3 linked regions of the Homo sapiens genome follow. The protein of the gene in region 1 interacts with the protein of each later gene in a pairwise test. Each region holds a gene or a part of one and is shown in the gene's direction. Other genes may lie near its edges.

Evidence for each region.
Region 2: the proteins of PRDM6 (region 1) and AQP1 interact in binary tests that used the Homo sapiens proteins (3 or more experiments, as listed by UniProt).
Region 3: the proteins of PRDM6 (region 1) and EXOSC5 interact in binary tests that used the Homo sapiens proteins (3 or more experiments, as listed by UniProt).

What each region holds. Positions count from the first base shown.
Region 1 is NC_000005.10:123,190,142-123,192,559, forward strand, and holds part of PRDM6 (putative histone-lysine N-methyltransferase PRDM6), read left to right. Parts: 3' UTR 1-2,418. UniProt on the Homo sapiens protein: Putative histone methyltransferase that acts as a transcriptional repressor of smooth muscle gene expression.
Region 2 is NC_000007.14:30,918,348-30,922,002, forward strand, and holds part of AQP1 (aquaporin-1), read left to right. Parts: intron 1-3,655. UniProt on the Homo sapiens protein: Forms a water channel that facilitates the transport of water across cell membranes, playing a crucial role in water homeostasis in various tissues.
Region 3 is NC_000019.10:41,390,750-41,394,404, reverse strand, and holds part of EXOSC5 (exosome complex component RRP46), read left to right. Parts: intron 1-1,424; coding exon 1,425-1,538; intron 1,539-2,442; coding exon 2,443-2,564; intron 2,565-3,655. UniProt on the Homo sapiens protein: Non-catalytic component of the RNA exosome complex which has 3'->5' exoribonuclease activity and participates in a multitude of cellular RNA processing and degradation events.

The sequences.
Region 1 (2,418 bases):
TCTTGAAGCAATCCTTCTTTACTCTTTTCTTTCAATGGGGATAAAATAATAATAATTTTTTCAGAATAAGACTTTTCATCCTAGCGTATGTTCCTTTATTTAGCAGAGTCTAAGACGAAAGGTAATGCCAGGGAAAAGTCAGGGTGCAATAGGATGAGAGATGGAGCTGCAGACCTTTGCATTTCTAGAAAAATCTCAATATCCCAAGGCAAAGTTGTATTTTCCCCAGGATATGTGCATACATTTTTCATAGATAAGCTTTTCATTTTTGTTTTGTTTTTATCTTTAAAAATGACTTTTTTGGAGGAGATATACTTCTAAAAAGTTATTGTATGGCTAATTAAAGCTATGAAACTTAATCTCATATAATTTATATAATTTGATTCAGTTGGTACATTTTTTATTGTGTTCATTTAAATGTAGCCTTCTTGGGAAACTATGTATAACAGGAAAAGATCATGACATCATTGTGTCCTCATAGGGCTCATAATTGAATTTTACCTTGTAAAAATTTCATTCTGGTTCAGGTATGCAAAGATTTATACGAACATTTAGCAGTTCATCAATTTTTAAATCAGATGTTCATTGTTTCATTCATTTATTCAACAAGTATTTATTGAACTCTTATTTTATATAAAGACCCCATTTTATGTGTTCACCATAAGCAGCATTATTTAAGTGACTATTCATGATAAAATAATATTCTCCTCCTAAGTGGCTGCTAGTAAAATGGGTATTTTAGTCCTTTAGACCATTGTCTCAGTGAAGTTAAAGATTTTGTTCCAACTGGGAAAATCTGAGAGAGGTAAATTCATCTGGGGACCAGAAAATAGCATATTGCAAAACAAGTTAAGATGCACAACTTGGTTGTCTTTGCTTAACTCACTGGGCTATTGGTTGTTAGCAGCAGTATCAAGAGACCAGGATTAGGGCCTGGGTCTTGGGTTTTTATGACCCCCCCTTTCAATGATAAGGCAACAAGTTGGGTACAAGGCTGGAGTTGCTCAGGGAAGGAGATCTGCGACCCTGAATGGGTCAGAGTTGCCTCATTAGTGGTAAGCGTTGGCAGTGTAGTCCCTTTCCCCGGTGTGCAGAAGTAACATTATTTGTTTTGCACTAATTTAAAATTTAAAATGCAAGTATCTATTGAGTTGTTTAAAATGGGAATCATGGCACGTCTCACAAAGAGGGCATTTCCAGAACAGCAGGGTTAACGGGTCCCTCTGAGTGTACCCAGCAGCCTGCGTTTAGGAGCAAATTCATTGCTCTCATATTAAGGCTATGCATGCCTACAGAAACCAGGCCAGGAATAAGAAATAAATAATCACATTTCCTGAAATGTTTATCTGTTTCTTCCTTGACATGAATTTAATTTTTATTTCCCAGAGTCTTTACTAGATCCTGACATCAGATTTTAAAAGATACTGAGATATATGCTTCTTTAAATGATAACTGTAAGTTCCAGAAATGTTATTCACTTGTCAGGATCCTTTTAAGGTGAAGAGCTTTGGAAAATTTTATGCGCTAACTAGATACCTGGGTGATCATCAACCCAAAGTTTAAAGTTCTCCCCTCACTAGCATTTATCTGAACTACCACAAAACAACAACGCAGGTTACTAGGAAGGCACCTATTTCAGCCCTCCCCAAGATTGCATTCTACAAACCCAGAGATCAGCTGTCAGGTACAACTGGCCAGACAGAGCCAAACTGAAAAGAATATTGCTTTATCTGTGGAAACCTTGCCACAGATGTTTAACCTGTAGTCCATGGCTGTGTTTGACATTTAAAATATTTATTTAGTTTCTTCCTTTAAATAATAAATGCCAGATGTTTCATCAGATCAATATGTAAAACGATAACAAAAAATATGTCGGAAACAGGTCAAAGTCATGAAACATTTGAATTGTCTTTCCTATAGACTGAATATGCCACCACTGCACTTAGAAAACCTATGGAGGAAATTTTAATGGAAAAATAAGGACATTCTGCGCTTATTCCCACAGAGGTTGATGGGAATGATGATGATTATAAATTATATTGTGCAATTACTGCCATGCCTTGTTCTAATGCTTAATGTGGATTATCTCTTTTAATCCTTAGTAACTCTATAACAAAGATACTATCATTATCCCCTTCTCATATATGCTTAACAGTTTTAGCTTTGTAGCTTCTTTAGTTTTTTTCCTCCTTCAAAGCCATAAACAGGCAATTGTTAAAAGAGGAAAATACTTCTCTATGTAAAGCTTTTTTTTGAGAACAAGAGCTTTTAAAAATTAATAAACACAAGTATAATTTATTTATAAAATGTGTTTGTGGAAACAATACTGAAGTGCTATTAAAACACGTATCATTATAGATGCTGATTTTGTCATGCCCAAATCTCATTGCTGGACAGAATTTCAACTATTCCATTGCT
Region 2 (3,655 bases), on another chromosome or scaffold:
AACAAAAAAGAGAAAGAGGGAGTCAGCCCTGGACACATGTGGTCATCACAGACACAGCAGACACTTATCTACAAAGACACACAGAGGCACACAAAACCAGGAATCCCCCCATGTCCACGTGTGAACACCCATGGAGGAGTGACACTCTGGAGCCCACATAGGTCCCCTCACTGCCCAGTGCTGAGTCTTGGAGGCACTGGGGTGGGCAGGGCAGGCCTCGATGTCTCCTATCCCTTGAGAACGAAAGCTCAGAGCCTCAGTCAGGCCTGGCTCTGGAGCCTGCTCTTCCCCAAGGCCAGGGCACCAGGGTGCCCAGGCCAAGTCAGGGGCCCCATGCCTTGGAAGCCACCCTGGTTGGCCTGTCTATGGGTAGCAGGGAGTGCTTAGAGCACATTGCCTGGAGAGATCATCCCTGGGCTGCCCTAGAGCCAGGACACACTGGCAGCCACAGAACCACCTTCTGCCAGCTCCCAAGTCCAAGCTGGGAATAGCCAGGTCCCTTGACTGGGCCTAGGAGTGGCCAGCCCATTGACCTGTGAGTGTAGGGTGGCACAGACTATGGGGCAAGGATCCTGGCTTTGCTGCATCCTCCCTGGGCCTCAGCCTCTGCGTCATCATCTCACTGAGCCATCGCACAGGCTGCCCTCTAGGGCTCCCAGAGGCTAATGATTGGCCCATTGTTTCCCAGCTAGAAAGTGAAGAAGACCGCCCTGGGTCCGGAGAGCATCTCTGGAGCCAGGCTGCCCCTAGCAAGGGTGGGAGTTCTAGAAAATTAGCATTCTCTGCCACTTCTATCAGCACACAGTAAGCCTCCCCTCAGAGGCGTGGGCAGAGAAATGGCAGAGGTCCCCCACTCTGTCTTCACCGAGCTCCCAGGCCAGGAGGAGATGCACCCACATAGGCCGCAGGAAGATTGATTTCCTACAAGATGCACAGAGAATTCAGTGAGGGCATGGTGGGTGGGAGCAGAAGTTAATTCCAGCCAGGGATCTGGGAAGGCTTCTAGGAGCTGGTGGGGTCTGAACTGGGCCTTGAGTAGTGGGCTTACAAGGGCTTAGCACAAAATGGAGAGCTTGTATCTTTCTGACACTTCAGAAGAAATGTGTGGATTATTCTTTCGGTAATACTTGCATTCACAAAACCCAGGGCTGCAGACAAAAGCGGGAAGACAATTGAGAATTGAGAATTGAGAATTGTTCTGATTCTTACTTTTTTTTTTTTTTTTTTGCCTTAATAAGACCTGGGCCAGGCAAAACTACCTGGGGATGTGCAAATATATATGTACATATATATAAAACAAGTGACTACAATGGGAACTGTCCTTGTTTAAGCAAGTTTTCAAATTTAATGGGTTGTAAACAGTAACGTACATTTGAAGTATTTTACCTGCTCTTTCCTGGACATTGAGTTTCAACAGGCCTTTGAGTGCCCCTTCCAATTCTGAATTATCAAGTGTTTCCAGATGTAAATAATGCAAGTGTATTAGATAGTTGAAGGAAGGTTGTCAGTAGATGTTGAAGCTATCAGGGGAGGCTTCCTGGTGGTAGTGGTAGTGGGTATTGGAGAGGAAGGCTGTCAGCCCATGTGGTTCTCAGCAGTCACGAAGGCACATTCCAGAATTCCCAGGGCAGGTGGCTGACCCCTCCCCTTCCCAAGGACTCAGAGTACAGGGCCTGGAACTATCACCCTCTGCTCTGCCCACTTTGCATGAAAAGCATGTTGTCTTTGGGTAGGGGCTGGGGCTCTCGCACCTGGTTAAGAACCAGAGGAGATGAGCTCTTTCTGGTCACATCTGTGAGGGATGGGGCTGGGAGGGTTCTCCAAGGCGGGAGCCACTTACAGCGATGACTCCATTAATCATCGGGGAAGGGCTGGTTTCAGGACTTCTGCCAGCTAGCAATTAGGCCAACCCTGGAGAGCAGAAGAGAGAGGAATAGAAGGAGCCACGAGCTTCCTGAGGGCTCAGATACAGAGGGACAGGGGCCTCACAGGTGCAAGTGTGGGTGGGCATCAGGACTAGCCGGGCTGGCCTCACCAGCCTCAACCCCATTCAGCCTGTCCTAACTCTGGGCAGGCTTCTGCCAGCAGCTCCACCCGCCGTCACTCCTTCTGCCTGTCCCCAGATCCTGCACACACAATGAGAAGAACCAAAACAAGAGTCACTACCACTGCCCCATCCCTCCTGCGTCGACAACTCTTTCCAAAAGCCCTGAGACGGCCCCTTTGGCCTTTGAACCTCCCAGCTGCTCTGGAGAGCAGGCACGGACAATGAGATCCATTTTGCAGATGGGAAGACTGAAGACCAGAGGGAATAGGCCATGCTCATGGTGCCAGAAAGTAGAAGAGTCAGAACCTGAACACAGGGCTTCTGCCTCTTTGGCCCAACCTTGGGACAGAAAGGGAACTGGGCATTGGCCAGAGGGCTGGCGGACCTAAGGGATGTAGCCCTGGGGTCCGCCAGGAAAGGCCCAAAGCTGGGGCTGCAAGGCAGGGGAGGGGATGTGAGTCATTCCCTGTAACCCAGGGCTGCAGACAAAGGCGGGAAGAGAATTGTTCTTGTAGGATGGCCTCAGGGTGGGGCTGGGAAAACCTCCAAGGTGTGCCCCCCTACCTTGGATTTTGCAAAATTCTCTATGGCCTTGGAGACACTCCCATATCCTGAGGATGGGAGCTGGGTAGTTTGTCTCCCAGCTGGGAAGTGTTTGGGTGCACCAGCCCTGCCTGGGAGAAGGCAGCCTAAGTGGCCTCAAGTGGGCATCTTTGCAAGTGAGCCTTTGCTGATGTGGTCCATCTCCCCTGTGTGAGTGCACTTAGCCCCTGGGACGGCCACAAAGCATAGTGGAAGGTGCTGGGGCTTCCTGGGGAGGGGTCCTCCGGGGGCAGCTGCATGGGGAGGGCCTTCATGACCTCACAGCAGCTTCCATTCCCTTCTCTTTCCATGAGTCATGTTTCTAAAAGTGGCCCAGGAGTAAGTGGCAGCCAGACGGTGGTGGCGGGGCCTATCTGGCCAGGCAGAGGGAGGGTGAGGCTGAGGCCAGCAGTGGGGAGGAAGAAGAGAGAAGGAGAGACAGGGAGGGCAGGGCCAGAAGCAATGGGAGACAGGCCTTGGACCAAGGAAAGAGACGGGGTGGAGAAGGAGAGAGAGAGGGTGGAGACAATAGGGAGGCAGGCACAGAGGAGAAAGAGGGGTGGAGGGAGCCAGGACCTCACCGAAGGCCTCCTCAGCCCTGGAATTTAGATGCAGTCGGGCATGGGGTGGAATGTTCTGGACTTTTGGGTATGAAGCCGTGTCCCCTGCTGGGCCTTCCCACCTTTTTGCATCTCTTCTCCTAGGAGTGCTCCTGACCATCACCTTCATGCCTGGGGCTCGCCCCTTGCCTCTGGTCTTGGTACCCCAGAATACCCTGGCCTGGATGCAGCTGGATGCAAAGGCCCCAGCTCACCCCAGGCCTCTCCAGCTTCTAGGCAGAGTGGGGCCTGGGTCTAGGCAGGTATTAGGGGCTGGGCTGGAGTTTCATTAACACAGGGGGTGGGTTCAAGGCCTGATTTCCACTACCTGCCGTGTAGGCTTGCCTGGGACCCTGTGATGGGCTCTGAAGGCCCATCTGAGGGTCCGCCCTTCATGCCTGGGCCTGGGAGGCCTGGGTATCCTTGG
Region 3 (3,655 bases), on another chromosome or scaffold:
CTAAAATGTATTTTTTTTTTTTTATTGAGACTAAGCCTTGCTGTTATTGTCCAGGCTGGAGTGCAATGGTGTGATCTCGGCTCACTGCAACCTCCGCCTCCCCGGTTCCAGCAATTCTCCTGCGTCGGCCTCCCAAGTAGCTGAGATTACAGGCACCCACCACTATGCCCAGCTAATTTTTGTATCTTTAGTAGAGATAGGGTTTCACCATGTTGACTAGGATGGTCTCAAACTCCTGACCTCAGGTGATCCACCCACCTCAGCCTCCCAAAGTGCTGGGATTACAGCAGACAGTACTAGAAGCCAGGCTGTTTATTTCTTAGGTTTTACCTCCTGTACCCCGTTCATAGCTTCTGGGGAAATAAGGAATCAGGATTCATTCCAGATATTATCCCTTTCTCAGGTGTCCAGACTGATGCAAAATTTGGGGGCCAGTGCCTAAGGGAAGAGCTGGGCTGGGGAAGCTTTGGAAAGAGAAGTTGAGAGCAGCTGCAGTAAGAGGGAGGATGGTTAGCTTTCAGGAAGAACTTCCTGTTAAAAGTTACTAATACCAGCCGGGCACAGTGGCTCACGCCTGTAATCCCAGCGCTTTGGGAGGCGGGCAGATCATGAGGTCAGGAAGTTCGAGACCAGCCTGACCAACATGGTGAAACCCAGTCTCTACTAAAAATAAAAAAATTAGCCAGGTGTGGTGGCGCGCGCCTGTAATCCCAGCTACTCAGTAGGCTGAGGCAGGAGAACTGCTTGAACCCGGGAGGCAGAGGTTGCGGTGAGCCGAGATTACGCCACTGCACTCCAGCCTGGGCGACAGAGCAAGACTCCATCTCATTAAAAAAAAAAAAATTACTAATATCAGGGCCAGGCGTGGTAGCTCACGCCTGTAATCCTAGCACCTTGGGATTACAGTTGCCCAGGAGTTCGAAACCCGCCTGAGCAACATGGCAAAATCCCCTCTCTACTAAAAATATAAAAATTAGTCAGGCATGGTGGCACATGCCTGTAGTTCCAGCTACTTGGGAGGCTGAGGCGGGAGGATCACTTGAGCCCAGAAGGTCAAGGCTGCAATGAGCCGTGATGGCACCACTGCACTCCAGCCTGGGCAATGAGAGTGAGACCCTGCCTGAATGCCTGAATGGACGAATGTTACTAATACAGCTAAAGTCTGTTGCACATTCAGCGTGAGCCCCGCAGTGTTCTAAGTGTTTTCTGTGAATTGTGTCCTTTGATCCTCACAAGACGCTAGCGGGGAGGGACTGCTATTTTCCCCATTTTACAAATGAGAGAAATGAAGTGAGTGCTCAAAGAATCAGTACCAACAAATGGCGGGGGTGACGTGGGGAGCCCTGGCCGTCAGGCTCAGTGCCACAAATGGGGCCCCAGGAGCAGGGAAGCTGTGAGTGAGGCCCTCCCTGCTGTCTCCTCAGGTGACACCTCTGTCCTGGCGGGTGTGTACGGGCCGGCCGAGGTGAAGGTCAGCAAAGAGATTTTCAACAAGGCCACACTCGAAGTGATCCTGAGGCCGAAGATTGGGCTGCCTGGTAATTGGGCCCTGCTGAACCTCTGAGTGGTGCCCAGTTTGTCAAAATCACCCCCCCAGCTCCTCCCTACCAGCTGCCCCGAGTCTCCACTCCCCGCTTGGGTCTCCACTCAGCTGTTTCTGTCTTTAACTCTCCGCCTCTAATTAATAACTCATCTTCTGTTGCTTCTCTCTCTGCCTCTAATTTCTCCCTCCCTCTTTTCTCCCTCTCTCTGCCTCCACTCTCATTCATTCCATTAACCTGTTTTTCTTTTATTTATTTTTATTTATTTATTTTTTTTTTGGAGACAGTGTCTCGCTCTGTCACCCCGGCTGGAGTGCAGTGGCACGATCTCAGCTCACTGCAACCTCTGCCTCCCAGATTCAAGCAATTCCCCTGGCTCAGCCTCCCGAGTCGCTGGGATTACAGGCACGTGCCACCATGCCCACTAATTTTTTGTATTTTTTTAGTAGAGATGGGGTTTCACCATGTTGGCCAGGATGGTCTTGATCTCCTGACCTCAAGTGATCCGCCCGCCTCAGCCCCCCAAAGTGTTGGGATTACAGGCGCGAGCCACTGTGCCTGGACCATTAACCTGTTTTTCCACCCTTTTACCCTCATATCCCTCAGTCCCCACTGACTGGACCTGCTAGGGTGGGAGTGGGCGTGGGTAGCAGCACAGACATGGAACTCCCAGGTCTTCTTCCCTTGGATGGTTCCCTTGGTGGATGCTGGAGGTAGCAGGGGTCAGTGGATGGCAGTCAGGCCTTGCCTTCTTCCCACTGGAATCTTCCATCATCCCTGCAGGTAACTGCACCATCCCAGGCTGAGACCGTGAGCCCTTTCTGGGAATTTGGGTGAGGCGTATGGAGGAAGGTGAGTCAAATGAAGGGGAAGACCCTGAACCTCTCTTCAATTTCCCCAGGTGTTGCAGAGAAGAGCCGGGAGCGGCTGATCAGGAACACGTGCGAGGCGGTGGTGCTGGGCACGTTGCACCCCCGCACCTCCATCACCGTGGTGCTGCAGGTTGTCAGCGATGCCGGCTCTGTATCCTTTCTGCCAGGCCTCCTCCTCCAGGAAGTCTCCTGATTGCTTCCCTCCTGGCGGATACATATACCCTCACTGCTAGCCAGAAAGCCTTCAAACACTTGACAGGTACCAGCTCACTGAAGAAGGAGAGCAAACAGCCTGGGTGCTTACTTATGTGCCAGGCACTGTTCTGTGTGCCTTATGCACATTAACTCATGTAATATAGCACATGCCCTTATGATCCCCGTGGAAGTGGCAGAGCCAAGACTTAGACCCAGACCGTCTAGTTCTAGAGCCCACGGACCCTGGCAGATGAGTGTTCTTATGTTCGCATGTTTCAGGTGACAAAACTGAGGCCCAGAGAGGGGAAGGGGCTTGCCCAAGGTCACACAGCTGGAAGGCAGCACAGGCAGGACTCAAGCCCAGGCCAGTCTGACTCCAGAGCCTGTGCCAATCACTTCTTTTGTTTTTTGGGTTTTTTTGTTTGTTTTTGAGACAGGCTCTCACTCTGTCACCCAGGCTGGATGCAGTGGTGCAATGTCAGCTTACTGCAACCTCTACCTCCCGGGCTCAAGCGATTCCCATGCTTTAGCCTCCTGAATTACAGGTGGAATTACAGGTGCCTGCCACCACGCCAGGCTAATTTTTGTATTTTTAGTAGAGACGGGGTTTTGCTGTGTTGGCCAGGCTGGTCTCGAACTCCTGACCTCGAGTGATCAGTCCACCTTGGCCTCCCAAAGTGCTGGGGTTACAGGCATGAGCTACTGTGCCCGGCTGGCAATCACTTCTACTCGGCACCTCAGTGGATTTCAGGCCCTCAGTGCTGGGGGCGCCCTGAGCAGACAGCAGCTGAGTCAGGAGCGTGGCCTTGTAAGATCTCCATGTCTGAGGTGCGAGAGGTTGAGGTTGAGGACTAGAATTAGACACTGTAGAAGGCTTTACTGGAACGTGGCCCTGAACTGGACAGACATTTTATGGATGGGCAGAGAGAGAAGGTATTGTGACCCCATTTTACAGAAGTGGAAAGTGAAGCCCAGAGGAAGGCGTGGAGGATCAGCAGCAGAGCTGGAACCGGTTGACTAAAGCTGTGGTCTTTGTCTGGCTGCTAG